Regions from separate parts of the Homo sapiens genome. Here regions 1, 3, 4, 5, 6 and 7 are each linked to region 2. The links come from fine-mapping of genetic effects on gene expression. A gene starts in region 2. Each other region holds a variant in brackets. All regions are shown on one strand. Distances are from middle to middle. Region 1 overlaps SUCLG2 (succinate-CoA ligase GDP-forming subunit beta). Region 2 holds the start of SUCLG2 (succinate-CoA ligase GDP-forming subunit beta). Region 3 overlaps SUCLG2 (succinate-CoA ligase GDP-forming subunit beta). Region 4 overlaps SUCLG2 (succinate-CoA ligase GDP-forming subunit beta). Region 5 overlaps SUCLG2 (succinate-CoA ligase GDP-forming subunit beta). Region 6 overlaps SUCLG2 (succinate-CoA ligase GDP-forming subunit beta). Region 7 overlaps SUCLG2 (succinate-CoA ligase GDP-forming subunit beta).

Region 1 (4,522 bases), 210 kb before region 2:
TCAGAGCAGAACTGAAGGAGATAAAGACATGAAAAACTCATCCTCCCACCCAAAAAAAATCAATGAATCCAAGAGCTGTTTTTTTTTAAAGATTAACAAAATAGACAGACCGCTGGCCAGACTAATAAAGAAGAGAGAAGAATCAAATAGACACAATGAAAAATGATAAAAGGGAGATCATCACTGATCCCACAGAAATACAAACTACCATCAGAGAATACTACAAACACCTCTACACAGATAAACTAGAAAATCTAGAAGAAATGGATAAATTCCTGGACACATACACCCTCCCAAGACTAAAGCAGGAAGAAGTCGAATCCCTGAATAGACCAATAACAAGCTCTGAAATTGAGGCAGTAATTAATAGCCTATCAACCAAAAAACATCAAGGATCAGACGGATTCACGGCCATATTCTACCAGAGGTACAAAGAGGAGCTGGTACCATTCCTTCTGAAACTATTGCAAACAATAGAAAAAGAGGGACTCCTCCCTAACTCGTTTTATAAGGACTGCATCATCCTGATACCAAAACCTGGAAGAGACACAATAAAAAAAGGAAATTTCAGACCAATATCCATGATGAACATCAATCCAAATATCCTCAATAAAATTCTGGCAAACCAAATCCAGTAGCACATCAAAAAGCTTTTCTACCACGATCAAGTAGGATTCAACCCTGGGATGCAAGGCTGGTTCAACATACACAAATCAATTAACGTAATCCATCACATAAACAGAACCAATGACAAAAACCACATGATTATCTCAATAGATGCAGAAAAGACCTTTGATAAAATTCAACACCTCTTCATGCTAAAAACTCTGAATAAACTTGGTAGTGATGGAACATATCGCAAAATAATAAGAGCTATTTATGACAATCCCACAGACAATATCACACTGAATGGGCAAAAGCTGGAAGTATTTCCTTTGAAAATTGGCACAAGACAAGGATGCCCTCTCTCACCACTCCTATTCAACATAGTATTGGAAGTTCCGGCCAGGGCAATCAGGCAAGAGAAATAAAGGGTATTCAAATAGGAAAAGAGGAAGTCAAATTGTCTCTGTTTGCATATGACATGATTGTATATTTAGAAAACCCCATTGTCTCAGCCCCAAATTTTCTTAAGCTAATAGGCAACTTCAGCAAAGTCTGAGGATACAAAATCAGTGTGTAAAAATCATAAGCATTCCTATACACCAATAACAAACAGAGAGCCAAATCATGAGTGAACTCCCATTCACAATTGCTACTAAGGGAATAAAATACCTAGGAATACAACTTAAAAGGGATGTGAAGGACCTCTTCAAGGAGAGTTACAAACCACTCTTCAAGGAAATAAGAGGGGACACAAACAAATGGAAAAACATTCCATGCTCATGAATAGGAAGAATCAATATCGTCAAAATGGCCATACTGCCAAAAGGAATTTACAGATTCAATGCTATCCCCATCAAGCTACCACTGACTTTCTTCACAGAATTAGAAAAATCTACTTTAAATTTCATGTGGAACCCAGGAACAGCCCATACAGCCAAGACAATCCTAAGCAAAAAGAACAAAGCTGGAGGCATCATACTACCTGAATTCAAGCTATGCTACAAGGCTACAGTAACGAAAACAGCATGGTATTAGTACCAAAACAGATATATAGACCGATGGAATAGAA[C/A]AAAGCCCTCAGAAATAACGCCACACATCAACAGCCATCTGATCTTTGACAAACCTGACAAAAACAAGCAATGGGGAAAAGATTCCCTATTTAATAAATGGTGTTTGGAAAACTGGCTAGCCATATGCAGAAAACTGAAGCTGGACTCCTTCCTTACACTTTATGCAAAAACTAACTCAAGATGAATTAAAGTCTTAAATGTAAGACCTAAAACCATAAAAACCTTAGAAGAAAACCTAGGCAATACCATTCATGACATAGGCACGGGCAAAGACTTCCTGACTAAAACACCAAAAGCAATGGCAACAAAAGCCAAAATTGACAAATGGGATCTAATCAAACTAAAGAGCTTTCTGCACAGAAAAAGAAATTATCACAAGAGTGAACAGGCAACCTACAGAATGGGAGAAAATTTTTGCAATCTACCCATATGACAAAGGGCTAATATCCAGAATCTACAAAGAACTTAAATTTACAGGAAAAAAACAAACAACCCCATCAAAAAGTGGGTGAAGGATATGAACAGACACTTCTCAAAAGAAGACATTTATGCAGCAACAAACATATGAAAAAAAGCTCATCACCACCAGTCATTAGAGAAATGCAAATCAAAACCACAGTGAAATACCATCTAATGCCATTCAGAATGGCGATCATTAAAAAGTCAGGAAACAACAGATACTGGAGAGGATGTGGAGAAACAGGAATGCTTTTACACTGTTGGTAGGAGTGTAAATTAGTTCAACCATTGTGGAAGACAGTGTGGTAATTCCTCAAGGATCTAGAACTAGAAATACCATTTGACCAAGCAATCCCATTACTGGGTATATAGACAAAGGATTACAAATCATTTTACTATAAAGACACATGCACACTTATGTTTACTGCAGCACTGTTTACAATAGCAAAGACTTGGAACCAATCCAAATGCCCATCAATGATAGACTGGATAAAGAAAATGTGGCACACATACACCATGGAATACTATGCAGCCATAAAAAGGATGAGTTCATGTCCTCTGCAGGACATGGATGAAGCTGGAAACCATCATTCTCAGCAAACTAACACAGGAACAGAAAACTAAACACTGCATGTTCTCACTCATAAGTAGGAGTTGAACAATGAGAACACATGGACACAGGGAGGGGAACATCACACACTGGGGCCTGTCAGGGGCTGGGGGGCTAGGGGAGGGATAGCATTAGGACAAATACCTAATGTAGATGACAGGTTGATGGGTGCAGCAAACCACCATGGCATGTGTATAACTATGTAACAAACGTGCACATTCTGCACATGTATCTCAGAACTTAAAAAAAAAAAAAAGACTGTGGCTTCAGTGTTGTGTTGAGTCTCCTGTCTTGTCATGTGTAGCCCTATGGAGACTCATGGGAAGGAATTGAAGCCTCCTGCAAATATGTCTGCGTGTGAGCTTGAAAACATACTCCAAATACTTCTGAGACTGCATCCCTAACCAACAGTTTGTAACCTCATGGGAGACCCCTGGCCAGAACAACCCAGCTAAGCTGCTCCTGTATTTCCAACCCTCAAAAACTGGGAGTGATAATAGATGTTGTTCTAAGTTGCTCAACTTTAGGATCTTTTGTTACAAAGTAATACAGATAACTAACATATACAGTAATCTACCCAAGATGACATTGCTAGAAGTGGCAGAGTTCAAGCCACTTCCAACATACTTGCTGTTAGGAAAGAAGGAGAGGGCATGAAAGGAACCAAGAAAAATAACTCAGAATATTTCCCCACTGCTGTTAATGAAAAGAGAAATAAAAGGGCAAACATACTGGCTTCCCATCTGCTCCTCCTCCCAAATCTTACAGAAAACACTTTGCCATCTTTCTTTCCCATCAGTATCTTGTTCTGAAATATATAAAATACCTGTCAAGCAAAAGCCTTTTTAAAAAGGGTTGATTTCATCAATCTGGCTGTCTACTTTCTTTCTTTTTTTTTTTTTTTTGAGACGAAGTCTCGCTCTGTCGCCCAGGCTGGAGTGCAGTGGCGGGATCTCAGCTCACTGCAAGCTCCACCTCCCGGGTTCACGCCATTCTCCTGCCTCAGCCTCCCAAGTAGCTGGGACTACAGGCGCCCGCCACTACGCCCGGCTAATTTTTTGTATTTTTAGTAGAGACGGGGTTTCACCGTTTTAGCCGGGATGGTCTCGATCTCCTGACCTCGTGATCCGCCCGCCTCGGCCTCCCAAAGTGCTGGGATTACAGGCGTGAGCCACCGCGCCCGGCCAGGCTGTCTACTTTCAAATCACAACTGAAATCCCCAGAACAGTGGTTCTCAAACTATGGTACCTGGAACAGCGGCATCAGTATTGGCCTGAAGCTAGTGACAACTGCACATTTTGCGTCCCCACCCCGGGCTACTAAATTGGAATCTCTAAAGGTGGGGCTGAAGAATCTGTGTTCTAAAGGGCTTTCCAGGGGATTCTTATGCACACTGCTCTAGATTTAAGACTCCTGTGAAAATGACAGTGGCTGTCCTAGAGCTTTGTTCCTACTGATGGCTGAAAGTGTTTTTCAGATATGACCAAAGACTTTGGGTGGCCTTCAGCCTAATCAAAATATTTAGAGATTTAATTACTAAATGCCAACCCATACAAATGTAAAGATTTTTCCTACAGAGACTTTGTGGTGAACTGAATGCATTTTTTAATCAACTGCTTGGCAAGCAGTATGAGTTTTCTTGTTTGTAAACATCTATACTAATGCTAAACATATTTATTCACAACTTGACAAGAAATATTGCCCTGTAATTAATCATTTCCCAGACTGAATTCAGACAAAATAAAAATGCACTCCTGAAATGTGCATCCCCTTCACA
Region 2 (4,522 bases):
TAAGGACGTACTATCAATCAAAAGTCAAAACAGTAAAGCTAACAGCAAAGGTGAAAAAAAAAAAAAAACTTCAATGACACTAAGCATCAGGAATATGTGTCAAATGTTAAATTTAACCATAGGGAGGAGGTAGACAAAATGTCATTCTATGGGTATCTTTGAGAGACCAGTTAAAGTTATTTCTCTAAGCAGAAACTGGGTCTTTTATTTCTGTACAGACAACAGTTTTTCACAAGGCCTGGTGGTATAAAATAGGTCTGGGCCAAGAGTGGCAACAGATTTCTGAGACACTTGGTGAGGATTCTTAAGTATGATGAGAGAAGTGGGCCATGTTTAACTGCAATGTCTGCCACGGGCAAGGGACTATGGAAACGTAATATCAAATCAGTGTACATGAAACAGATCATAGGAAGCACCCAAGAATTTGAAAATAGCAATACTCACCATTTTTATGGACAATTCTAAGATGGTCATAAAGAAAAAAATAAAAATGTGTCAGTGGTGCTAATGACTTGGATGTTATATAGTTACTACTGGCATGCAGATTAATTTGCATGTTGATATAATATATTTTCATGAGGAAGTATATACTCACCAGGAAACAGCATGGTGTAACGGAAACGTAAAGGTAAGCCTTTACTCTGGAATGCCACAAACTCTCACTGTATCGTTGAATATGTCATTGAACTTCTTTAGGCCTCAATTTCTCTACCCATGAAATGAGCTGGCTGGACTAAATGATTGCTAATGTCCATTTCCAGTTCTTGGACACTGTGTACCTTTCTATCTTTAAAAAAACCTACTTTTACCTTCTAAGAATTTACAGAAAAACACATCATCCACAAATATGTAAATCACAGTAACCAGATGGGGCGTGCTAACAGATCTTTTTACCCAGTTTTCTTGACAAACCAAGAGTATCTCTCCCCAACCAGATTTTCTCCTGTGTTGCGTTCAGCCTCTTATTTCTTGGTTAGGGAAGTAGGCTTCACATATTTCAGCTAAACACTCTGCATTTTCAGTTTCTCTGTACAATTCATGAGTTTTCACTGCCCTGGGCCCCATGTTTCTCATCAATTCAAGTCTACACTCATGGTAAGCACCCTAGTTCTTGTTTTTTCTAACACTTAAATAATGAATAGGACTTCATCTCCTAGAGCTATTCTCCTTACTCTATTACAACAGTTATTAGTGAGTTTTAATTAGACAAAACTGCCATTCCTTTTGCTACCTCACTATACTGTCAAGCACCTATTAAGAATATTACAGTAGTAAGTATTAGCACCTTTTAAATTTACATTAACAATAACAGAGAAATGGGGAGGCAGGAAATGAAAGGAGAGGGGTAAAAATAGCTCACAGATGTCATAACCAAAGTTTAGAGGAACTCAAAAAATCATTAATCACTATTTTTTAAATTTTCTAAAAAACTATACTATGCACATCCTGGTTAAAATTGTATGAGTGATAATTTGCCTCTCATCAATTAAAAATGGGGAAATAGGCAAGGTCATTAACTCTGCTGTGGCTGAATCCCAGACTGTGCTTTCTTTAAAAGGGAAGAGAGATAGTCTACGGAGACTAACCAGTTCAGTGGTTGAGTGATTTCTACAAGAGTCATCACCAACTCAAAACTTTCCTGAAGTCCTTCTGACTATTTTAACGCTTGCCATCTGCAGAAGGTAAAAATCTGCTAGAGGCCAAGTTCCAATCGCTATCCAGCCCACCACTGACCCTCTTTGATTTCATTCTCCATCAACAAGGAGGACATGGACAGGGTCAATGGTCTAATGCGTTTTAGTGACAGCCCTGATTTTTCATTGGAAAGAGGAGAAAGATCGTTTCCCATTTTTCTCCTTGACCCACGGATTTGACCAACTCAGGCACATTAAAAGTCTGCAAAAGCAGGTAGCCTGCAGGAAGTTCACCCTAGGGGGTGAGTTCCTAGTTGGGCTGAAACGGGTTTCCAGGCATGTTTATCACGTGGTCTAAACGTGCTCAGGGTTAGTGCCAGAAGTTTGAAAAGCAGAATTAGTAGAGCTGACAATAAAACCTCAGGGCTCCAAAACCCGGTCCAAGAAACTTTTCTTAAACTTGCGTCCAGCGCCTGCTTCAGCGCCTTCGCCATGAGTCTGCGCGGGCAGACAGCGGAGACTCTAGTGCGTTGGGTCGCTCATACCCCGAGGCACCCGGGGCTGCCGCCGCGCCGCCCCTGCCCCACACTGGAGCGGGGTTCCCTGCTGCGCCTGGACCCGGCGCCGCGTCACCTCCCGAAGTGGGGCGCCCGAGGGGCCGCGCAGGGGGTCAGGCGGAGACCAAGAGTAGCAGGGGGCGAGGGAAGCCCGGGCAGGCCGGCGCCGCTGCTGGCGCCCGCAGCTCCTGCCCCCACGCTCACCTGGGACCCGGCCGCCAGGAAGCGGGGCCGCAGCGCTAGGGCTCGCAGAAGCTTCCCGGCCTGCGCTGCTACGGGGGACGCCATCTTAAACAGGAAACTCGGCACGGGGCAGTAGGGCGGGCGCGGGCAGGGGAAGGAGGCGGAGGAGGAGCAGCGGGAGGAGGGGTCAGAGGAGAAGCGGGCGCGGGGAGGAAAAGGAGGAGGAGGCAGAGGCGGTCTGGGCCGGGCCGGGCCTGACCCCTGCGTCCCGGGGGCACAGGCGTTCTTAAGGCTGCAGAGCCCTGGGTCCCCCACCCGGCCCCGGTTCACTTTGAGCGGTCCCAAGGCCTGAGGGCCTACTGTCCAGTCCCCAGGTTATCGTCCTGAGCAAAGACAGACCCCGAGCCCTGCGGTCTTGGGGCTCAAACAGTCCCTGGATGGCCAAACAAGCAAATATTCGCCATGGCAGTGGGTGCTGGAAGGGTGGCTCACGGAGCTGACGCCCTCCGCAGAGAACCGTGGTCTAGTCCTGCGGTCACGAGGCCTATCTGGGACAGTGGTGTTTGAGCTGAGACTTTAACGAATAGAGACAGGTGAGGTTCCTGCAGCCCAGGGCTTCAGGTGAGTCAAGGAGAGGCCATTGGAGGCTCTCCATCCCTTAAGGAGTTGTGGGTGTTTTGTTTTGTTCTATCCTTAACCTAAAATCAATGTAAAGCTGAGAGATGAAGCCGGGTGGGTCGGTTGGGGACTTGGAGAACTTCTCTGTCTAGCTAAATGATTGTAAATGCACCAATCAGCGCTCTGTGTCTAGCTAAAGGTTTGTAAATACACCAGCCAGCCCTCTGTGTCTAGCTAATCAGGTGGGGACTTGGAGAACTTTTCTGTTAGCTAAAGGATTGTAAATGCACCAATCAGTGCTCTGTGTCTGGCTAAAGGTTTGTAAACACACCAATCGGCACTCTGTAAAAACGCACCAATCAGCGCTCTGTGTCTAGCTAAACGTTTGTAAATGCACCAATCAGCACTCTTTAAAAAGGGACCAATCAGCACTCTGTAAAATGGACCAATTGGCACTCTGTAAAATGGACCAATCAGCAGGATGAGGGTGGGGCCAAATAAGGGAATAAAAGCTGGACACCGGCGCCAGTAGTGGCCCCTAGTTGGGGTCTCCTTCCAGGTTGTGGTTGCTTTGTGCTTTTGCTTTTTGCAGTAGCTCTTGCTGCTGTTCACTGTTTGGGTCCGCACTATCCTTATGAGCTATAACACTCACCACAAAGGTTTGCAGTTTCACTCCTGAGGTCAGGGAGACTGCGAACCCACTGGGAGGAATGAACAACTCCGTATGCCCCACCTTCGAGGGCTGTAACACTCACTGCAAAGGTCTGCAGCTTCATTCGTGAAGTCAGCGAGACCACGAACCCACAGGCAGGAACAAACAACTCCGGACGGGCCACCTTTAAGAGCTGTAACACTCACTGTGAAGTCTGCGGCTTCACTCCTGAAGTCAGCGAGACCACGAACCCACCGGAAGGAAGAAACCCCAGATACATTTGAACATCTGCAGGAACAAATTCTGGTCACGCCATCTTTACCGCGAGGGTCTGCAGTTTCATTCTGGAAGTCAGCGAGACGATTAAGAACCCACGGGAAGGAACCAATTCCGGACACAAAGCTATTGGAGGATTTTAAGCCCAGTAATCAGAGTGATAAAAGCAACATTCATTTGGAGCTGTGAACCCCAAATACCTGACACAGGTCTCAATCAATTTAAGAAGTTTATTTGGCCACAGTTAAGGACACGTGCCTGTGACACAGCCTCAGGAGGTCCTGACATGTGCCCAAGGTGTGGTGGAGGACACAGCTTGGTTTTATACATTTTAGGGAGATATGAGACATCAATATATGTAAAATGTACATTGGTTTGGTCCAGAAAAGCGAGACAACTGGAAGCAAGGAGGGGCTTCTAGGTTATGGGTAGATAAGACACAAAGGGTTGCATTCTTTTGGGTTTCTGATTGGCCTTTCCAAAGGAAGCAATCAGCTGTGCGTCTATCTCTGTGAGCAGAGGGATGACTTTGAATAGAATGGGAGGCAGGTTTGCCCTAAGCAGTTCCCACCTTAACTTTTCCCTTTACCTTAGTGATTTGG
Region 3 (4,522 bases), 210 kb before region 2:
GTTCTGTGCTAATGAGTAACTTTCTTCAAAATGGGGTGATTTCTTAGTATAGCAGACTACACAGACATAATCAGATGTGACCTATCCCTTCAGCCATAGTTCATCCTTGTTAAGAATATGTTTATTCAACCTTGAGGAGGTTGGGATGATGCCTAAGAGAAGAACCAACTTAGGCTTCTAGACGGACCTATCGGGAGACCTGTTCCAAGTACCAATAATGTCTCTTCTTCAAAGATGTGGGCATTGGTGACCCACTATTAGAGATTTTATACAAGTTTTGGGGCTATCAGGGACCTTAGAGATCGTCTAGTCTGGATTCAAACATTAATCCAGGTATCCCATCCTCAAAGATTGCCAGGGAGCTGCATAAGCTTCCCAGGTGATGTCAATGCGCAGCTGGATTTGGAAGTGAATGCCTAAGTAAAAAGGATAATTTAGGCAATCACTTCAAGGTTCATCCTTGGAAAGTGGATTGTTTCTACTTTTTGGCTGTTATGAATAATGCTGCTATAAACATTTGTATATAAAAAAAAAAAAAAAAAAAAAGAAATTAGATCTCTCCGGTATCTAAATATGTACATATGTACATTTTTTTTTTTTTTTTTTTTTTTTTTTTTTTGAGATAGAGTCTCGCTCTGTCACTCAGGCTGGAATGCAGTTGTATGATCTCCGCTAACTGCAACCTCCACCTCCCGGGTTCAGGGATTCTCCTGCCTCACCCTCCCGAGTAGCTGGGACTACAGGCGCCTGCCACCACGCCTGGCTAATTTCTTTTTTTTTTTTTAGTAGAGATGGGATTTCACCATATTGGCCAGGCTGGTCTTGAACTCCTGACGTTGTGATGTGCCCGCCTCGGCCTCCCAAAGTGCCTGGATTACAGGCGTAAGCTATTGCACCCAGCCATGTGCAGGTCTTTTTAGGCAAAACAATGCCAGGCACTCAAAGAATGTTGGTCATTAAAAGGGTATTTCACTTTTAGAAAAATATATAACTACACACTTTATTCACTATAATCACTATTCACTTTATTTTAAATTGTGACATATTAAAAAAAGATTATCTATTAATTGCATACTTCCATTAATGTAATCCTTAATAAGATGCAAATTTTTAAATAATCCTTTATGTTTGAGGAAGAAAATGGTTAAAAATCAAAAAAGGTTAACATTAGTTTTTTGAAACAGGTTAAAATCATCACTAGTAATTAGCTGATGAAAATTCATTGTTCTCTGGTTCACTAGTTTTATTTAAGTGTGTTGTCAAAATGCAGATGTTAACAGGAATCACCTACTGAAAAACATGCTAAAATTCAAGGTCAATAAAACTGAGTTAATTTTAAAAAATCATTTTACCTACTAACATCTAGGATTTCTACCTCATTTCTCAACTGTAATAATACTAGAAGTACCATAAAATACTATAATTAAATACAAAATTGACTATAAAGTTGAACCCCAACAATGAGAGGGAATGTCTTAACAAGTCATTACCAAAAAGTGACTGTTTAAATATAGAAAATATGATTTTATAAGTGTAGGAATGAGTTTTTTTCCTACCATCTTTTCAATATTCATTGAGCAGTTATTACATGGCAGGCATTGGGATAGATGCAGGTAGCTACAAAAATCAGTACAACTCTGATTTGATTATGCCCACAATCTGGGGGTACAGAAATGGAAAAATGTGTGTCATGGAGGGCAGGAGAAATGCAGAATACAATACACTGAATGGATACAGAAAACAGGAACAAGATACTTCAGGAGGAAGCTTTGACTCCCACAACAGAAGTATTGGGTAATTAATGAACTATATTCCAAATCAACATATTTGCCAATGGAAAAGAAAGTTCATAAAAACTTGAAAAAATTTGTCCCATTTTATTTATTTATTGAGACAATTATTAATGCATTTATTTATTGAGACGGAGTCTTGCTCTGTAGCCCAGGATGGAGTGCAGTGGTGCAATCTCAGCTCACTGCAACCTCTGCTCCCGGGTTCAAGTGATTCTCATGTCTCAGCCTCCTGAGTAGCT[G/A]GGATTATAGACATGTGCCACCATGGCCGGCTAATTTTTGTATTTTTAGTAGAGACAGGGTTTTGCCATGTTGGCCAGGCTGGTCTCAAACTCCTGACCTCAGGTGATCCGCCTGCCTAGGCCTCCCAAAGTGCTGGGATTACAAGCATGACCCACCGCACCCGGCTGAGAAAATCTGTTTCAAAAAGTAGATAACAATTAAAATATTAATATGTTGCTTTAGCCGTTTTACTTCTAACAATTTATCAGAAATACAAAAGTTCATAAGGATATATAGATGATATTCACTGGATGAAAAAAATCCCCAAAAAACTATGAATAACTTAATAGCCATCAAGATGGGACTTGGTAATACATTATCATTCATTTTATGGAATGCAGTCATAAAAATGAATGAAATAGTTTCATTTGTATTAACATAAAAATCTAAGACCTATTAGGTAAAAATGTAAGTCACAGAATACATATATGATGGGTCCATTTATTTAAAGAACAAATTAGGAGACATGTAAACATATCAGAAGGGGAACAGAGAAGAGTCACACTTAAATTCTGACTCTGTAGCCCAGGCTGGAGTGCAATGGTGCAATCTCAGCTCACTGCAACCTCTGCTCCCGGGTTCAAGTGATTCTCATGCCTCAGCCTCCTGAGTAGCTGGGATTACAGACATGTGCCACCATACCCAGCTAATTTTTGTATTTTTAGTAGAGACAGGGTTTTGCCATGTTGGCCAGGCTGGTCTCAAATTCCCGACCTCAGGAGTACCTGAGATACCAGCTACTTTTTGTTTCAAAAAGTAGATAACAATTAAAATATTAATATGTTGCTTTAGCAGTTTTACTTCTAACAATTTATCAGAAATATGAAAGTTCATAAGGACATATAGCTGGTACTAGGAAACAATACACTTTTACAATGTTTAAACTGCATGAAAAAACACTATTTCTGAATCAAGTGTAAAAAAGGTTTTTTTTTCTTTTCTTTTAGTGGGTAAAGTCTAGTTATTCTGACTGCTTATCATTATTACTGTTGATTCTGGTAGTGAAAAAAAACTTTTGAATTCCATTGAGATAGTAATGAACACAGAATTGTAACAATAGACAGATGGAAGTAATATAAAAACACTGTTGAATTTGAATATTTCTTGCTTTTTTGCTTTCACAGAAACACATTATTTTACATTTACTTTATATAAGTGAGGTATTTTATGGTGTTTTCTAAATTCTATTAAGAACATTCTAAAAAGAAAAGGTGACTGTGACAGACAGATTAAAATCCAATCCACAGGCAGTCCCCTTTGGCAAACCACTCTGATTAAGTGGCTCTATTTTATTTCAAGAATATATATCTCTTGCCCCTTTAGGAAATATGTGAATGTTTTCCAAAAGCAAGTAAAGAGTGCCACATCTTAAGCACTAGAAAGCCTATGAGCTTTATCTGGGATCTTTGCTTTCATAGGCTTGTGAAGAAAATCTGAACATGCAGACAGGCAGTCACTGTCACATATTGAAGTTTAACAGTGACTAGAGGAACTATAAAAGCCCAAAACTCTATATTCATTCTGCAGTCATACAAAGAGCAGAGGGTGAATAATTTAACTTCCAAAACAATTAGTCCAGTCCTTTACTTCAAATTCTTCAATAATCCTCCTTTTCCTATAGCAGTCATCAGACATGTACATAATACCTCTGCCTTTTTTTTTTTTACCACAACAGTGCACACTATCTGTTTGCTATTTGCTGAATATTTTATTTTTATTTTATTTTATTTTTGAGTCATAGTCTCACTCTGTTGCCCAGGCTGGGGTGCAGTGGCGTGACCTCGCTCACTGGAGCTTCTACCTCCCAGGTTCAAGCAATCCTCACGCTCAGCCCCCTGAGTAGCTGGGACTACAGGTGTGTGCCACCATGCCCAGCTAATTTGTGTATTTTTAGTAGAGATGTGGTTTTGCCATGTTGGCCAGGCTGATCTTGAACTCCTGGCCTCAAGTGATCCACCTGCATGGCCTCCAAAAGTGATGGGATTACAGGCATGAGACACTGCACTCGGCCATGCTGAATATTTTAAAGCTTAAATACATTATTTGAAAAGAGAACAGTATCACTATCAATACGAAAAATAACATATTAATTCCTATAAATTGAAGATAATAAAATACAAAAAAACAGTATTTTTTTTAAAATTAACTAATTAATTTAGAGACAGGGTCTTGCTCTGTTGCCCAGGCTGAAGTGCAGTGGCATAATCATAGCTTACTGCAGCCTTGAACTCCTGGGCTCAAGCAATCCTCTCGCCTTATCTTCCCCAGTAGCTAGGACAACAGACACGTGCCACCACACCTGGCTAACTTTTAAATATTTTTTTGAGATGAGGTTTTGCTATGATTCCCAGGCTGATCTCGAACACCTGGGCTGAAGCGATCCTGTCACCTCAGCCTCCTGAGTGGCTGAAATTACAGGCTCAAGCTACCAAACCTGGGAAAATGTACAA
Region 4 (4,522 bases), 170 kb before region 2:
TAGGAAAGAAATCTCTTGTGAAAAGAAGCAGTTGATGGTAACTTAACGGGGACAAAAATGAATTAGATCTACCTCGATGACTGAGCTCAAGATGAGGTAATTTCATAAAGTTTATAGAAAGTCACTTAAAAATTACACAACTTGATGTAGTCTACTTTTGGAGAGAAGGAAAATAAAAGTCCTCCATGAGGGAGTTGATCTTTAGAAAAATGCATTTACAAACCACATTGATGAACTCTACCTATTATCTGGAAGATTATCCTTAATTCTCATCTGGGTAACAAAGTCACTTTAGAATGGATACAGTCCTCTGCATTTCAGGGACAGATTTTGAAACAGAAATAGAAGAGAATAAAAATCTTCAAATATAAGGGGTTATAAAGCGTATGGGGAAGGAAATAAAAATAAGTGTTAACAGAGGTGAGCTCTGGGCCACCATAGGACGCAAGAGTGTGCTGAGGCATATTCTCGGTTTGGTTAAGAATAGTACTCATGGTATGTGAAACAGGACTTTCTGTGTTGTCAGTGACCGAAAATCAACTCTAATTTAAGGGGTTAAAGGGAACCAGTTGGCTTACACCTGGGAAGGATGCTAAAGTAACTCACAGAAATAAGGAGGAGCTATAGAGCTGTAGTAGACATTCTCAAATGCAAGCAAACACGAGAATCATCTAGAAGGCTTGTTAAAACTCAGATTCCGGGGCCTCATCCCAGAGTTTCTGACTCTGAAGGTCTGGGGTGGAGCCCAAGAATCTGCATTTCTCACAGATTACCAGATGATGCTGATGCTGCTAGTCCAACCACACTTTTGAAAACCATGGAGTCATGGAAACCTAGGCTAGAGGAACTAAGCCCTATGATGGCAGGAGCCTCCATCATAGCATGGCAGGAGCTTTGCTCCTGGAGCTTACACAGGCTTTCACCAGCTACTAGGGAATGTAGCCTCCTGGGCCACATTATTTTCTTTCATGATCCCAGAGGTAGGTGGCCTCTTTCATGAGCTTCCACAGAAAACCCCTGGGGAAGGTTCTAACTAGCTTGAGGGACTTGTGGCCAGAGACCATCCCTGAAAGTAACCTACAATGGCAGGGATGCAGTAAAGCAATTGGCCTGGCCTGGGCGAAAGCTTACTCTGTGAGCAGTAGCTAGGGAAGACAGGATCCAAGTGAAGACATACAGAGAGAAAGAAGGCATCACATTTTACAGCATCACCAAGGTCAAGGAAGTATCCCCAAAGAGACAAGAGGAAGATTCATGGAAAAGCAGGGTGAGCAAAGAATAGGACAATGTGATTACCGCAGCCCATAAGGAAGTTCACTTTGGCATCAAGATGTACAATCACATTCACTTATGACACTGTTTTTTTTACAAACATATCATCTACACTCATAGAGTGCTGCTTCTTACATAATCTGTGATGATGAATGAATTTTTAAAAATAATTCCCTAACTCATTGACTTGTATTATTATAAAATGTAATAATGCAAATTACTAAAAAATTGATATTCCTCTTGCATGTCATGGCAAGGGTAATTAGCAATACAAGTTTCTAAATGCTTATTCTCAGTATCTGTACTTATCACAAACCTAAAACAGCTCACAAACAGGCACTGGTACATAAACTGGCATGGGTCCAACCACACACTTTCGAGCATTACTGCTCTAGACCACGTGGACCAGGACTTCTTGGTCACAACTTCTTAACTCCTTAAGAAAGTGAATGAGCACAGCTGTATTCCGGTACAACTTTATTTACAAAAACAGGCATTGGCCAGG[A/G]CTTGGCCATGGACTGTAGTTTGTCTGTCCCTACTTTAGACCAGGGCTTTTCAAACTCTAACGTGCACAGCAATCACCTGGAGATCCCATGAAAACACAGACTGTGCATTTCTAACAGCTTAAAAATTGTTGTCAACACTGACAGTCCATGGCTGACATTCTGATTAGTAAGCCTTCACAGACAAATCTCAGTAAACCTAGAGACTGGTATGTGACCTTAAGTATAATATTGCTCTATACTGGGTTTTTATTGAGCCTTAAAAAGACTGCAGAAAAGACTACATCTGTCATTCAGGTACCTACCTTTCTCTGCTTTAAAGAGATTATTACAATCAGAAAAAAATTGATAAGGAAAGCCCCATTGGAACCAATAGCATCAAATATCGGATGGTTTCCTACTTTCTCGATTAGCTCCTAACTTGACACATAGTAGGTGCTCAAGAAATAATTGTTGGCAGGGCGTGGTGGCTCACGCCTGTAATCCCAGCACTTTGTGAGGCCGAGGCGGGCGGACCACCTGAGGTCAGGAGTTTGAGACCAGCCTGGCCAACAAGGCGAAGCCCTGTGTCTACTAAAAAATACAAAAATTAGCTGGGCATGGTGGCACTCTCCTGTAGTCCCAGCTACTCAGAAGGCTGAGGCAGGAGAATCCCTCGAACCTGGGAGGTGGAGGTTGCAGTGAGCCAAGATCATGCCACTGCACTCCAGCCTGAGTGACAGAGTGAGACTATCTCAATAAGAAGGAAGGAAGGAAGGAAGGAAGGAAGAGAGGGAGGGAGGGAAGGAAGAAAGAATTGTTGATTGCAGGCTGGATGCAGAAATACCAAGCTGTAACCACTAGAAGAGAAATATAGTATGCTGATGGGGCTTCACTTTCCGTCCTATACCTTATTTAAGGTATTTCACACTGTAGGATAAATTGGTGCAACTTTCAATTGGCAGTGCCTTTAAGGAAGTACCTGTATAGAAAAACTGAATCAAAGAATTTGTTCTTTCAGTATAAGTTCTCTTCATGTTTCTATACTTTTGTATTTTTTTACTTTAGCTTCATTCACCCTTCTTATTTGAATACCAAATATCTATTCTTTGGAATTTGGTCAGCACTGTCAGCATTTGGATTAACTATTTGGTCGTTCAGCTTAATGGAGAAGAAGGCTCCACTCATGAAATGCAACTACTGATCACAGGTTATAAAACACAGAAAATATCAGAAATCATCTAAATATGAGGTGATTTTGGTGTTTTCTCTCACACCTGCTACCCAAATGCCAAGACTCTTGGATCATAATGACACACGGAAGATTCTAAGTCACTTTTGTCTCCCTCTCAGAGAAATGTGCTACTTGGGATTAACGAGCAAGTGAAACCTAGAAGGTCAAGGGTTAAAGCTCCAAATGGATTTTCTGCTTGCTGTTTACGATCTTCAGGCCTTTCAGTATTAGAGCAGACACCTAAACGTTTGCTCAAAAACTTTCTATTGAGTTCTAATTGAGAAAAAAGGATGTGTCCAGAATACTTAGAGATAACAATTAATGAAAAAACCCACAGATAAGCTGGAAGAAAAATAATTAACTCGGATTTGTACCAGATGGCCCTTGGGAATGCTAATATGTGTGTTTGCAGTGCTCCATTTCAGAAGACCTCAAAGGTGGAAATGAAGCATTCTCAGGAGAGGTTCCTGGGTATGCAGATGAAATATCCATTGATATTCAGAAAGGACCTCTAATTGCGAGAGAGTTGCCACCCAAATTAGGGTAAAGTTGCTGCGTAAACTATTTAAGTGGACAAAACTTAAAAAAAAAAAATCTGTAATAAAGCAAGCAACATTGCTCAGAACACTTTGGTAGGTCAAGACAAGAGAAAGGAGGACAACTCCGAGGGGCAGATTCTTTCATTGATAGCATTCATGTCATTACCCACAAACTCCAACTCCAAATCATGGAACGGCGATGACATTTCTTTCTCTAAGGTCAACTATCAGAGAGGTCTGCTTGGACAAATCTATCAGAAATAACAAACACCTGGCATTTTCAAGCCCCCTTTCATTTTTATATTTCAAACTAGCAGACAGCACCAGCAGATATATTGCATAATTTTCTTTTACTAGTTACTCACCAGTGTAAACGATTTTCTATCCTCTTTAAAATGGCACCTCCAGTGAACAAGACGAGATGTATTTCACTCACTGCTTTATCCTCAGTGCCTATAAGAATGCCTGGCAGGGATGACACTTAATATATTCTTGTTTGGCTGATGTTTCTAAATGGCTTTTAATCCAGTTTAGTCATTCTGTGGTCTGAGGAACTAGTAACTGATTTCACAAAGGGGTCTTTGCAGAGCTGCCCCCTGACATGCTGGAGAACACCCCCCTACCTACTCAAGTCATTCTTGCTGTGGAATGAATCTTGAGCTCATGGTTGACACCCTGACTTGTACCTATGGCTGAGTTCCTGGCTTAGTTATCTGCCTGGTACTTGAGTCTCCCTAGAACCAAGCTTTGGCTTACAGGAGGCTTGCCATGAATGGAGTTTGGCCCTTGCACTAGTGTGGGATTGGTGGTACTGGCTATTTGTTAAAAGAATTACCTATATGTTGTTTGGGAATTGCCTCCCTCTGTGTGTGCTCTGGCTATCTTCTAACATGCTGCTTTCAGGTAAGGCCCCTCCCTACTGCCACAATCCTTCCTGTACAACCAACCATTTCCTGTACGCATTGCCTCTGGCTGCTGGATGGAACCTCATCCCA
Region 5 (4,522 bases), 130 kb before region 2:
ACTTCATTTTATACTTCCTTTTAATTTATAAAAAGAATATTTGCTTGTTCAAAAATAATGCAAACGATACCAAAAATATATAAATGAGAAAGTGAAAGCAGCTTCCTGCTGCACAGCTCTACCTCAAATAAACCCTCGGGCCCCAGGAGTCAGGGCAGATACGAGCCTACCAGGAACCTCCGTGATAACTAGAAAAAGGCACCCCTTCCTCTGGGAATATGTGGTCATTTGCCAGGGCCATGACTAGACAGGGGACAAGTGGGATGGAAGAATGTCATTCAATTCCACAAGTGAGTGGGGACTCACTGCCTCAGCCAGGTGTCCTTTTGCTCTGTAGGACTTGAATTTCATGTAACAGCCCCACCAGGAAAAACCACTGCTGACATTCTAGTCCTTTTCTATGTATCTGCAAGCATTGCAGTAATGGAATAATCCTACATGTGGAAGCACATTATATACAACAGGATGCCTTTCTTTTTTTTAATCTTTTTTTTTTTTAAAAAAAGACAGAGTCTCACTCTGTCACTGAGGCTGTAGTGCAGTGGCACGATCTCAGCTCCCTACAACCTCTGCCTCCCTGCAACCTCTGCCTCCCATGTTCAAGCAATTCTCATGCTTCAGCCTCCCGAGTAGCTGGGCTTACAGGTGCCTGCCACCATGCTTGGCTAATTTTTGTATTTTTAGTAGAGATGGGGATTCACCATGTTGGCCAGGCTGGTCTTGAACTGCTGACTTCAAGTATCTACCTGCCTCAGCCTACCAAACTGCTGGGATTACAGAGGTAAGCCACCACGCCTGGCCTCTTTTTTAAAATCTTAATACTACAACTTAAATATCTTTCTAAGGTCTTCTCTCTTCATTGTGATTACATGGTATTTATATGACAATATTTATTTAACCATGTTCCTGCATTTATTTATTTATTTATCTATTTATTTATTTGTTTATTCATTTTGAGATGGTCTTGCTGTGTTGCTCTCAGGCTGGAGTGCAATGGCACAATCGTGGCTCACTGCAGCCTTGACCTCCCAGGTTCAAACGAATCTCCTGAGTAGCTGAAACTACAGGCACGTGCCTCCATAGCCACTTAATTTTTGCTTTATTTTTTGTAGAGATGGGGTCTTGCTATGTTGCCCAGGCTGATCTCAAACTCCTGGACTCAAGCAATACACTCGCCTAAGATTCCCAAAGTGTTGGGATTACAGGCATGAGTCATGGTGCCTGGCCTGCTGACAGACATTTACATGAACTTCAATTTTCCTAAAATGCTACTTTAGTGAGTATTTTTGTACATGTATCTTTGTTCATTTCTTTTAGTATCCCTGTAGATAAGTATCCTAAAAGTGAAATGTCTAGGTTTTAAACTGTGAATATTTAAAATGTTGATAAGTACTGTCAAAGTGCTTGAGAGAGGTTGTTCCAACTTACGCACCTAACAAGAACAGTGAAAGATATCTTGGATGTTTAAAGAATATAAAAACAATCCCATAAATAATCAGTAATAGATGTGAAAACAATGAAAGCACTAACATTGCTTTTCTTTCTTTTTTTTTTTTTTTTTGTTGAGACAGAGTCTCGCTCTGTCGCCCAGGCTGGAGTGCAGTGGCGCGATCTCGGCTCACTGCAAGCTCTGCCTACCAGATTTACGCCATTCTCCTGCCTCAGCCTCCCAAGTAGCTGGGACTACAGGTGCCCGCCACCACACCCGGCTAATTTTTTTGTATTTTTTAGTGGAGACGGGGTTTCACCATGTTAGCCAGATGGTCTCAATCTCCTGACCTCGTGATCCGCCCGCCTCGGCCTCCCAAAGTGCTGGGATTACAGGCATGAGCCACCGTGCCTGGCCTAATTGTTTTGTATTTTTAGTAGAGACGGGGTTTCACCATGGTCTCAATCTCCTGACCTCGTGATTCGCCCACCTCCGCCTCCAAAGTGCTCGGATTACAAGTGTGAGCCAACGCACCCGGCCACATTGCTTTTTTTACAAGTAGTTTAGTGATGGGTTCCACAAAAAAAAGTTACAGATTAAGTAGCATTAGATTTTAACTACTCAGATACCACAAAAACACTTAAGTTTTAGGTCACATGAAATGGGATAAATATATAATGATCTAAAAAGCTATAATGGAATGAATATAGAACTCCTCTTTTTCAAACTTTTGTTGAATTTACCATTAGTTAAAAATAAAATA[T/C]ATAGGTCTTCATATTGATTTATCAGAAATGGAAGTTCATAAGTATATAAAAACTGTTTCTCAGCACATGGTGTTAGAATTAGCACAGAACCATTCTGATTTCAAGTTGGTTGTTCTCACCAACAATGAAGGTCAAACCATCAGTCAGTGCCTAATTCTCCCAGTCTTCAGGTTGCTTGAAACCGTAAATTCTTTCAGAATTTCTGATTGAGGGGTAGGACAATATTTGAAGCAAAAATACTTAGCCCTATTCTTTCCTTATAAAATACAGTAACAACTTGTCGTTTATAGAAATAACATAAAGTCTGCCTTTCTAAGCATCAACATTAATACAAACATTTTAAGAAATTAAGATAATCATTTCTTCTAAAACTTTCTCTAGAAGAGAAAGCTGTTTTAAGAAATTTGATTGGCACAAAATACAAAATGAGGAGTGTGTTTGGTATATGCTTTCAGGTCTACTGGCATAATACTGTTCATTTTCTAATGCAGAGTTAGTTTAGAGAATAATACTTAATGACTTTCAGTAGTTATTCTTAGAGGCAACACAAAATTATAACTTTTTAGGATAAGTGTCATTCAAGAGTCCTATTCTTAATCTTCAAAAATGTTGACAGACGTGCTCTGTATTCCACCAAATTTCTATTTGTGAAGCCCAGCTACTGTCTGAAACAGCTCTTGCTTCACAGGAATAATGCATGACTCTTTAAGAAAATGTCACCAGGAAAATGATAATTATCAAGAGATAATTCAAGAAATTTTATACAACAAAGACCAGTTTGTTGACATCGTCATGCCTTCCAAATGACCGAGGATGACAGAGTATATTAGGAAGTGTTACAGAGAAATCTAAATGGAATCCACAAACACTCATCCCGGAGCAACTCCATTAGAAACATTTCAAAAGAGCTTCACCTGTGAGTTACACAAAGAATATGTTGACACATCGTCTTTGTGGAGTCCACCAGTATAGAAAGCTTTTTAACTTTCTTTGACCTATCTACTGCTGAATCTGTTTCCTTAAAAATATCATGCTACTGGAATTGTGGTCAGGAGATGAGTGCTAGCGTACAAACTATTTGTAACACACCCATGAACAGAGAAGATTAAAAGTACATTCTCGAATTTTAAATTGATTACAGAGCAGTAACCACTATTGGTACTGAATCCTGGACCGCATGATGAGTAGCACTGTCTCACAGGCCCTAGTACTAGCCCCAGGAATACATAACACATTGGCACAGACTTAGAAAACAAATATCTGATGTGTATAAATGTGTGTATGTGTTTAAATAGCTTCTGAAATAAATTTAGAATCAAAAGGTTCTATAATCTGGGGACTTATACTTTTGAGAAGATGGAGTAGACATGTTTTTCCCTATTCTTCCCGCTAAGTACAAATAAAAGCCTTGGACATATATATACATAAAACTTAAGGTGACTCTGAAAGTTATAGAGAAGAAGGGAGACTAGCTAGGGAGCTTGAGGTCCAAGGAAGCGTATGGTAGTGAGTCTCCTATGTTTTCTTTGGCCTCATAAATCTCAGGCAGGGTGCTGGGTGCTAGAGAAGCCAGCAACCCAAAAACATTAACAGGCACAGACAAATAAATCTCCAGGCTCACATGGTTTCACTAGGGAACTTCACCAAGCATTTAAAAAGAAATCAACACCAATTAACAATGAGCATGTTGGACACTGAAATTAAGAATCCAATGCCACTTGTAATTGCTTTAAAAGAGAACAATGTATGTGTAAGACTGACAAAACATATACCAAACGTATATGCTGAAAACAATACAATGCTGATGAAATAAATCAAAGGAGACCTAAAAGAAGGAGAGACATATCATACTCATGGGTTGCAAGGCTTAACATAACAAAAAACCAATTCCCTCCAAATTCATATACAGGTTTAATAAGATTCCTATCAAAATCTTAGCAAGATTTTTTCGTAAAGATAAAATTGTTCTAGATTGTACATAAAAAGGTATAGGAACTAGAACAGGTAAAACTGTTTTGGAAAAGAAGAATAAAGTGACAAGAGTTATTCTACTCAATTTCAGAATTTATATAAATACAGTAATTAAGACTCTGTGATATTGGTGGCGGGACAGCCACAAAGATCAATGGAACAAAACAGAGAACCCCAAAACAGACCCAAAGAAATATGCCCAGCTGAATTTTGACAAAGATGTAAAAGCAATTCAATGGAGAAAAGATAAGCCTTTTCAAAAAATGGTGCAGGAGTAATTGAATATCATAGCCCTTTTGCCCCTTAAAAAATAACCTTGACCTAAGTCTCACAACTTATTCAAAAGTCAACTCAAAAT
Region 6 (4,522 bases), 160 kb before region 2:
ACACACACACAGAGTCCTGTGTTCTAAATCACTGTGAGAATTATGTAATAATGGAAAACTAGACAAAAAAAAAGAAAAGGCAAGTCATAAAGAGGCATTACAAATGCTGAATAGAAGAAAAAGAATTTAAAAATGCTACCTCTCCTGTTGGTAAAGAATTACAGCAATGATAGCCAAGACATGGGAAAATAAATGGGCAGTCAACTCACTGATGTTAGCCCTCTACAAGTCCTTCAACTATTACTGAGGTAATTCAGCAATGCATGTGAAAACCTTAAAATGTGCATACATTTTGACCCTTACACTTCTAGGAATTTATCTTATATGAATAATCCCAGCTTTATGTAAAGTTATGAGAACAAGGAGGTTCATGGCATTATTTTAAATTTGTAACACCCTGAATATCAAATAACAGAGCACTAGGTTAAGTAAACTTGTATATCCATACAAGTAAATACCATTCCGCCACTGAAAATGTTATAGAGAACTGTACTAGGACAGGCAAAACACATAAAAAAAAGAAAGAAAGCAGACTATATAATATTGTCAATTATATGATATAAGTCTAGTTTTGTCAAAACTAGTGTGTGTATATATATATATTTTTTAAAAAGGTATATATAAATATATCTGTGTAATCTATTTTATAATTTTCTCTTTTGTTTGTCCTTATTTTAATAATTAGGAAAAGGGACTACTATTTATAAAATAACCTAAAATAAGGACAAAAGACTATTTAGCAAACTACTAAGTCGAGCCAATTTCTTAGGCAAGCCCATATGGACATGTTGCTCGTTTAGGAATGAGACCATCTTTCCTAATTCCTAATTCTCTGACAGTGGGTGGGGCAGCATGGAAAGAGGAAAAAAAGGATTCACAGTATCTGCAATCTCCTGAATCCATGGGGCACATCCCACCAGACTACATCTCACCTCTGCTATACAGGAAAGGAATCAGTCCAAAGGATTTCAGCCTTGTTCTTCTGAATGATTTTCCTAAGTTCACTACCCACATCTAATGATGCCTTTACCAGGCTTTATCTGAATTTTAAAGTAACATCTCAAAAATACTAATAGTACAACTTTCAGATGCCCTGCCACATAAGATTATTCTTAAGATGCAGAGATTCTTGACATTATTCCCGACCATTATTGATTGTCTTGCTGAGAAATGCACTGTTTTCTAATTGTTGCATTCAATGCTTCATTTTCTCTATGCAATAACATTAAGGAAAACAACAACCCTAACTCTTCTAATAATTATATATTTTTCCAAACTATATGGCATTATACTTTGATTCATGGTCCATTTCTCTTTAACACTCTACAAAGGCATCTACACAGAGGACTCGTAATCAATTCCGGAGCTTGCTGGGACTAACGACAAAATTTACTAAGCCCCAAATCTGTTAAATTATTCAAGTCACTTACCATAAAACAAAGTAGGTTGCATTAAAACCTGGATTTTGAAGACAGAGTAAAGAGTAAAAATCTTATTTTTGGCTTGTTTCTGAGGGTATGTCAGTGAGGAGCATGTAAATAGATTTTGAGTGTTCTATTAGGGATGGTTTGAAAATGTGGTAGCTAGCAGATACACCGATCATGTGGAAGACACAAAACCAAATGCAGTCACCAGGACCCACTTATTACTGAGAAGTATTGGCAGGTAAAATGGAACAAATGTGAGGTGGGCAAGGAGGGCCAGATATTCTTGGAAATTTTAATTAACTAGACATCAGGAAAAGATATGCAAAAATCAACATTTATGAATTCCTCACACTGGGAAAACTACTGCCGGGGGAAAAAAGAAAAGGGCCCAGAGTGGTAGA[T/C]GGTTTTCCATCCTCTAGCTTATGCAGAGTGACTTCCCTAAATAAAGAGCTATTCTAAGTGGAAGTGGAGACTAAATGACCAGCTGATCAACACAAAATTAATCATTCTCCACAGACTAGACTATCAGGTCGACTACCACTAGAAAGAATGGCTGCCTGGAATTTTAATCTTTTCCACTCTATATGAAAAAAATACATATTTTCAAGCAAACCTGCAAGAATAGAAATGCAGGGTAGTCATTTCAAAAATAATGCTTGTGTTGTATAAAGTATTGAGCACTATATTCGAAAATAAATTCCTACAAGAGTTCTACTTCCCTACAAAGAAAACAGTCGCTTGCAGATAAGGTATTTCAGCAAACACATGTGGTGTGTAATGAAATGGGTTTTGCTTTGTTACAATAAATTAAAATGGACACCAGACCTGAAGAATCTCTGAGCAGACAAAGCCAGTTAGGCCTCATAAGTGATCTTAACTCTGCTTGATTTGCAGACATAAACAAAACTTGAGCTATTTCTTGTAAATGCCTATGTTACAGAAAAATGAAACTTAAGGCTAACCAATTGGAAGCAGAAAGTTCTAGTTATCTAACTTATGGTTACATAACTAGAACTTTCCAGGAGGATAGACCAAATAAGGCAACAGTATAACTGTAACCAATCCAGTATTTTCTTTGCTTTACTTTCGTGTTTGCCCTATAAAAGTCTTCCCTTCACATTCTTTTGATGGAGCCCTGGAAGCACTTTTGGTTTGGAGCTGCTCAATCCGTGAATCACTGGTTATTCAAATCAACTCCTGACAATTTTACGGCACCTCAGTTTAAGTTTAAACAGCTCTGTGCCTCAGTTATACGCATGTATCTGAAAGAAAACAGGATATTCTTCTTTGTACTTAAATAAACTCTAAATGTGCAATAATTTAAAAATATGAGACAGCACAAGTGAATCCTAAAATATATTAAAACGTAAGGCATTTGCATATACCTGATTCTGAAAATATGGCATGCAGTTTTACTTCTCTGGCTTCACATTCTAAAGTTTCTGAAACATATACCATAGAGCACAAAAAGAGCTGGCCTCTTCTCAAATTTATAACAAATTATATTTTGTTCTTCTTTCAAACATGAATTTAATCCTCCCTTTATTAACTGTTTCCTTGGTTGTCTGAGTAGAGAATCATTGTAAGCTGAGTCACTTACACCTTCCATCAATTTCAAAACAACACATGAAGTAACACTGATTATCACTGAACCTGTATCAGACACCTCCCATTTCTGAGATGTGCATTTATTCTAAATCTAAGTTTTGGAAGTGATAATGGAATGAAACACTCAGAAAATATAAAAAGCCAAAGTTTTCACTATGCTTTAGAAAGGTTTGCAAGTTGGTACTTAAAACAATGCTTTAAGGTATTATTTTCATGTCTATAGATGAGGTAATACAAGTTTACAGAGTATATTCAAATGGCTAATAAATACATGAAAAGGTGCTCAACCTCATTAGTCATGACAGAAAGGCCATAATGAGATAATGCCTCATACTTACCTGAATGACTAAAATTGAAAAGACTAACCAGTAGCAAAAGTAAAGTAAAAGATAACAAATGCAAAAGAGTATACAGTACATGATTCCAGTGATATTAAGTTTAAAAATAGGTAAAACAAATCTGTGATATTAGAAATTACCTTTGAGGGCCGAACACAGTGGCTACTGCCTGTAACCCAAGCACTTTGGGAGGCCCAGGCGGGAGGACCCCTTGAGATCAGGAGTTTGAGACCAGCCTGCGCAACAAGGTAAACCCATCTCTACTAAAAATACAAAAATTAGCCGGGCATGGTGGCAGACGCCTTTAGTCCCAGCTACTCAGGAGGCTAAGTCAGAAGAAAAAAAAAAAAAAAAGAGAGAAAAGAAAAGAAATTACCTGTGGAGAGAAAGCAGGGTAGGAAAATGATGGGGACTGCATGAGGAGGAGGCTTCCAGGATCCCTGTTATGTTTTATTTCTTTTTCTTTTACTTTTTTTTTTTTTTTTTTTCCAGACGAAGTCTCGCTCTTGTCTCCCAGGCTGGAGTGCAATGGCACAATCTCGGCTCACTGCAACCTCCGCCTCCTGCGTTCAAGCAATTCTCCTGCCTCAGCCTCCCAAGTAGCTGGAATTATAGGTGCCTGCAACCACGCCTGGCTAATTTTTGCATTTTAAGTAGAGACGGGGTTTTACCATTTTGGCCAGGCTGCTCTTGAAATCCCGACCTTCTGCCCACTTCGGCCTCCCAAAGTGCTGAGATTACAGGCATGAGCCACCGCATCCAGCCATGTTCTATTTCTTGATCTGGCTGGAGGTTAGATGATATGTTCACTTTGTAATAATTCATCAAGCTGTATACTTAAAATTTGTATACTGTTCTGTATGGAGATTATACTTTAATAAGTTTATTAAATTTTTTAAATGATACTGTCATATGAAATTATTTTCCCTCTAAATGAAAAGTGTGCGTGTGTGTCTCAATATGTGTAATAAAACAACCCTCTGAGGTAAGTACTGCTATTATTACCACTTTATAAACGAGGATACCAAGGCACACAGAAGTTAAATAGCATGCCCAAGGTCCCACAACCAGTAACTGGTAAAGACAAGACTGGAACCCAGGCAGTCTGGCATAAGAATCCCACTAAGAGTCCCTTCCATTCTTCAACTT
Region 7 (4,522 bases), 240 kb before region 2:
AATGTCCCTGTTTGCAGACGCCTACCTCATCCATCTTATCACACATGTTTCTCAGTGTGGGTTTATCTCATGAACATGTATTTTCCAATATGTTAAATCCAAAAAATAGTTTTTAACTTATTTAATGTCTATTTTGTGTCCTATCAAAAAAAAGCTTCTTGGGTTGAAAAAAATATTTTTGTAAATGTCTTGACCTGCCACCTTTTTATTTTCATGATTGCTTTGAATATCATGTCAAAGTTCTTACTCCGGAAACCTGGATGGTCTTCTGTGTTGCTCAAGGCTAGCTGAGGGCATCTCCCATTTTTTTGTTTGTCTTGAGTAGGTGATGCTTCCTGTAATGCCCATTTCTGCTACACGAGTTCCCTTTCATACTATGCCATCTAACTCGACTCCGAAGTTCTTGCCACCTAGTTGAGAAGACTGTAATCTCTGCCTTGGCAGATTTGAGAACAGGAATTCCATCCCAGTTTCATGTTACAGTTCCAAATGACTGTTTTTATAGATGTATCGAGTACATTGATGTTGGGGGTACTTCTTATGGGAGATTATATTGACTAACTGACTTGCAGAGTGTTAATTTTAATTGGAAGGGGTGGTTTCAAACTCAGTGCCAGACAGGTAAGTAAATGAGTAGAGAGGTATTAGATTAAGACAACAGAAAATACTCTGACATACCAGCAAGGACATGCCTTTTCAAATGGGGCAGTTGCTACACAATCTATCCAATTGTTGCCATGCGAATGTAGGCCTTTTATGCCCAGATCTTTCCTGTTTTCAAAAGCCAAAATTCTGGATTTTTAAAAACACTAGGCTTACTAGACAAAATGTATCTGAGAGCAGCATCTGTCCTTACTGCTTAATCTGTGTATCTCCCACAACTAGGTAGATGTATCAACATCCCAGAAGATGCTTTCCAAACCAGTGCATCTTTCCTGATACTATCACTACCCTCTCTAACTTTTGGATTTTCCCACTCCCTCAAATAATCTGAAAATTTCTATTTCTTTTTTCTTTATGAGATGCAATCTTGGCTCTGTTGCCCAGGCTGGAGTGCAATGTCGCAATCACAGCTCATTGCAGACTTGACCTCTCAGGCTCAAGTGATCCCACCTCAGCCGCCTGAGAAGCTGTGACTACAGGCATCTGCCACATGCCCAGCTAATTTTTAAAAAAGTTTTTGGTAGAGATGGAGCCTCGCTATGTTGCCTAGGCTGGTCCCGAAATCCTGGGCTCAAGTGATCCTCCTGTTTAGGTCTCCCAAAGTACTGGGATTACAAGCGTGAGCCACCATGCTTGGCCAGAATTTGAAAATATTTCTGCATATAATGAAATATTCGAATGGAAAACTGTTACATGTGTGAATGTTGGAATGCAGAATAAAGCTACACAGAGAGAGAAAAGAAACCAAGCAAGTTTGGAGAAGGACACAAGGATTTCTCCGGCTACAAAACGAGGATTGAAGAGTTATACAACATGAATTTACACATGACAGCAATCATGCTAAGGCTGAAGTAGCTAACACTTCTTAATCACTTACTAGATGCTAGGCACTGCCTAAGTATTTTATCTATCTTAACTTACTGATATCTCACCACGACCCTATAAGGAAGGTAACTGCTTTCCATATTTTACAGATGGCATACAGTATAGAGGCATTAGGTAACTCCTCTAAGCCACACATTTGATAATCCTAAACCCTCATGTGACTCCAGATCTACTGTGTCATATGGTTTGCCTTATACTCTTCTACTCTAACACCTTCAGTCACCTTACTGGCCAACTTGGCTGAAAT[C/G]CTTGGCATAGCCTAAAATGTCCTTTATATACACCAGATGCAACACATTCCTTAAACATGAGACAAATCCTCCCTTGAAGATCTCCTTCCATGGTAGTTTTAAAATATGCCCACAAATCCCTTAATGTTCCTCTCTTCAAGATGTAGAGCTTAATCTTCCTCCTCTGGAGCATGGGCTGTACTTAGTGATTCATTCTAATGAGCAGAATATGGTACACATGACAGTGTGCGACTTTTGAGACCAGGTTATGAAGGGTATTGGGGCTCCTTCCTATTTGTTCTCTCTCTTGGATCACTCACTCTGGGCAAGCCAACTGCCAAGCCATAAGGACGGACACTCAAGAGACTTCTATCCAGCAAGGAACCAAGGCCTCAGGCCTCCTACCAACTGCCATGTGAGTCATTTTGGAAGCAGATTGATCCTCTAGCCCCAGTCAATCAAGTCTTGAGATGACAGTGAACCTGGCATACTTCTTGACTGCAGCCTCATGAGAGACCCTGAGGCAGAACCAACCTACAACCAAAACCAGATGTCACTTATCAATAAACTCAAGGTTGAATTGTTGGCTCACTGATAGGCAGAGTTTTGAATAAGAATTTAGGTAGCTCTTTCAATAAAATATTTTTCACATTTAAATTAATGGCAGATTGCTGAATAAAATGTATATGCTTTTACCATTTAATGACCACATATGAAAATTGAAACTAATCCTTTGCCATACTGAAATATACTAAACTGCAAGTTCTAAGAAGTGACATAGATTTATACTTTTTAACAGATGATTTTCCTAAATTTTATACTTAAAAAATCCCACTATAATAATACTGCTTTGGAAAATGCTAGCTTTTTTTTCTTAATCAGGACTATGTACAGGGAATATGAGACAATTTGGTATCCTATTAGAATCTTATTTCTCTGACATGAGTAAGTTGGGCTGATTTCTATAATGATCTGTTACATATGCCTTAAGTCTTCAAGTGCAATGTGAGTTAAATGAAAAGTACTGTGGAGTTAACATCACAATTACATCTTAAGAAATTGCAGGAGATAATCTAAATTTGTTAAATATATTGCTAAGTATATGACTATCCACATAAAGCTTAATCAATTTCATAATAAAATCTACTTTAAACCCTCCAAAGTTCTGATTGTGTTCCTTAATATAGACTATTGAAAATTATTAAAATATCTGGTTTAGTGCTACAATAAGTGAATTAAGGCAAGATCAGTATGAACTACAACTGAGACAGGTATCCACTAGAGGCCAGTGTACTTCGGCATGGAGAAGGAATTTATAACCAATTCCTGTGGAAAAACCAACCTTATTCCTACCATTCAAAAGTGGAGGTCTTGTGAAGTGAAGAAAAAAAAGATGAAGAAAGCTATTTTGATTCTCTGAAAAGAAAGCTTCAGAGGATAAGAAAGATGAGTTAAGGAAGGATGAGTCATGAAAAAAAAGAGCAAAGAGAATTCTTGTCTAGAGAAAAAAAAATAGTACTACCATACACTGTACTGTTTGATGTTTCACCAACGTAAGTGTAAATTTTCAAGATACTTGGTGTAACTGTAAGCTTTTTCATAAATGTTTCATTTGGCAATATATTGGAAATAATTAAAGATCTGGAGTACCTAGAAAGTACCACAGTAATTTCATTTTCAAGGCAGTCATCATTGCTAGCTGCCTAGACAAGGCCAAGGGTTTTGAAATGGGATGGAACAAAACTGCATGTCTGCAATTTTCTTCCCTTAAACAACTGTATTCAGAACAAGTACCAAATGGTTCCTTCTCAAACATGGAATAATTCATATAAATTCACCTAGCACTACATTCATATTGTAAAATACATTTCTTAATAATGGTGCGACACGATGCCTACAATACTTTTTAACAAGGAACTGAACTAGTTTCTCAAAACTAAAAATCGGAGTGGAAATGAAAATCTGATTCTTTAGTAAAACGTAGACAATAATAGTTGGTAGGATCCTGAGTAGGAGATTTTACTTTGTAAGAGTGAAGGCTGAATGATTTAACACATAACCCACAGATGTGTACTCTTTCCCCTTTTCCTCCAGCAGAGAAAGGCACCTTATGTAATGTGGGCATGCCGGGGAGATGAATGAACCAGAAAATCTTAGAGCTAGGCAGGACCTGAGGGTTCAGCCACCGCAGCTTGAACCTTTTCAAAGACAAAAGTTTCCTCCTTTGCAAGGTGGCCCATTGCATCCCTCCATTGCATTGTTGAGGCTATAGCTGTTTGAAAGTTATTCTTTAATCTTTATACTGGGGGACCTCATCTGACACAACAAAATACTGTTCTGGTTCCTGAGGCCAAAAAGAGGACATAAGATACAAAGATAAATAATACATGATCCTGACTTCGAGGAGCTGTAAAATTCTACCCATGCAGTAGGTTCTGATTCTGATCTCTGCAACAAAAGCACTGGCTCTATCACTTATTAGCTGTGTGAATTAGCTAACTTCTTTGGGCCTCAGTTTCTTCATCTTTAAAATGGGGATAATAATATTAGTACCTACCTTTGCAGGGTTGGTGCCAGGATTAAATGAGATAATTAAAATAAGGCACTAAGCCCAGTACGTGGCAAGTGGTAAGTACTTATTAGCAGTCAGCAATTATTGCTACTCACTATTTACCTGGCATATAAGTAATTCAACCCTTTCCAAACTCCTATGAGCTATGATTTTATTACCATTATTTTTAGAGACA

What was found. PIP is the estimated chance that this variant, and not a neighbour inherited with it, causes the effect. A credible set is the group of variants that fine-mapping cannot tell apart.
Region 1: its variant is the best candidate, but not a certain one, in a credible set for the expression of SUCLG2 in subcutaneous fat (GTEx, PIP 0.71).
Region 3: its variant is the best candidate, but not a certain one, in a credible set for the expression of SUCLG2 in breast (GTEx, PIP 0.74).
Region 4: its variant is the best candidate, but not a certain one, in a credible set for the expression of SUCLG2 in nasal epithelium (TOPMed, PIP 0.74).
Region 5: its variant is the best candidate, but not a certain one, in a credible set for the expression of SUCLG2 in NK cells (Gilchrist 2021, PIP 0.85).
Region 6: its variant is the best candidate, but not a certain one, in a credible set for the expression of SUCLG2 in whole blood (TOPMed, PIP 0.77).
Region 7: its variant is the best candidate, but not a certain one, in a credible set for the expression of SUCLG2 in lung (TOPMed, PIP 0.75).

What each region holds. Positions count from the first base shown.
Region 1 is chr3:67,438,379-67,442,900 of GRCh38, forward strand. The region is part of intron 9 of SUCLG2 (succinate-CoA ligase GDP-forming subunit beta); the gene reads right to left. Among named protein-coding and RNA genes, the nearest start is that of SUCLG2, 210 kb to the right of the region's middle. The variant C/A (reference allele first, on the strand shown) is at 1,676.
Region 2 is chr3:67,652,108-67,656,629 of GRCh38, forward strand. It overlaps SUCLG2 (succinate-CoA ligase GDP-forming subunit beta), which reads right to left and starts at 2,505. Exons shown (of 11, transcript NM_003848.4): 1 at 2,396-2,505. The coding sequence starts at 2,479. SUCLG2-DT (SUCLG2 divergent transcript) reads left to right here and starts at 2,590. Exons shown (of 7, transcript NR_109992.1): 1 at 2,590-2,995. RefSeq lists a silencer at 2,117-2,796 and an enhancer at 2,312-2,811.
Region 3 is chr3:67,445,830-67,450,351 of GRCh38, forward strand. The region is part of intron 9 of SUCLG2 (succinate-CoA ligase GDP-forming subunit beta); the gene reads right to left. Among named protein-coding and RNA genes, the nearest start is that of SUCLG2, 210 kb to the right of the region's middle. The variant G/A (reference allele first, on the strand shown) is at 2,033.
Region 4 is chr3:67,479,667-67,484,188 of GRCh38, forward strand. All of the region lies in intron 9 of SUCLG2 (succinate-CoA ligase GDP-forming subunit beta), which reads right to left. Among named protein-coding and RNA genes, the nearest start is that of SUCLG2, 170 kb to the right of the region's middle. The variant A/G (reference allele first, on the strand shown) is at 1,778.
Region 5 is chr3:67,521,118-67,525,639 of GRCh38, forward strand. All of the region lies in intron 4 of SUCLG2 (succinate-CoA ligase GDP-forming subunit beta), which reads right to left. Among named protein-coding and RNA genes, the nearest start is that of SUCLG2, 130 kb to the right of the region's middle. The variant T/C (reference allele first, on the strand shown) is at 2,193.
Region 6 is chr3:67,487,520-67,492,041 of GRCh38, forward strand. All of the region lies in intron 9 of SUCLG2 (succinate-CoA ligase GDP-forming subunit beta), which reads right to left. Among named protein-coding and RNA genes, the nearest start is that of SUCLG2, 160 kb to the right of the region's middle. The variant T/C (reference allele first, on the strand shown) is at 1,829.
Region 7 is chr3:67,413,854-67,418,375 of GRCh38, forward strand. The region is part of intron 9 of SUCLG2 (succinate-CoA ligase GDP-forming subunit beta); the gene reads right to left. Among named protein-coding and RNA genes, the nearest start is that of MIR4272, 190 kb to the left of the region's middle. The variant C/G (reference allele first, on the strand shown) is at 1,796.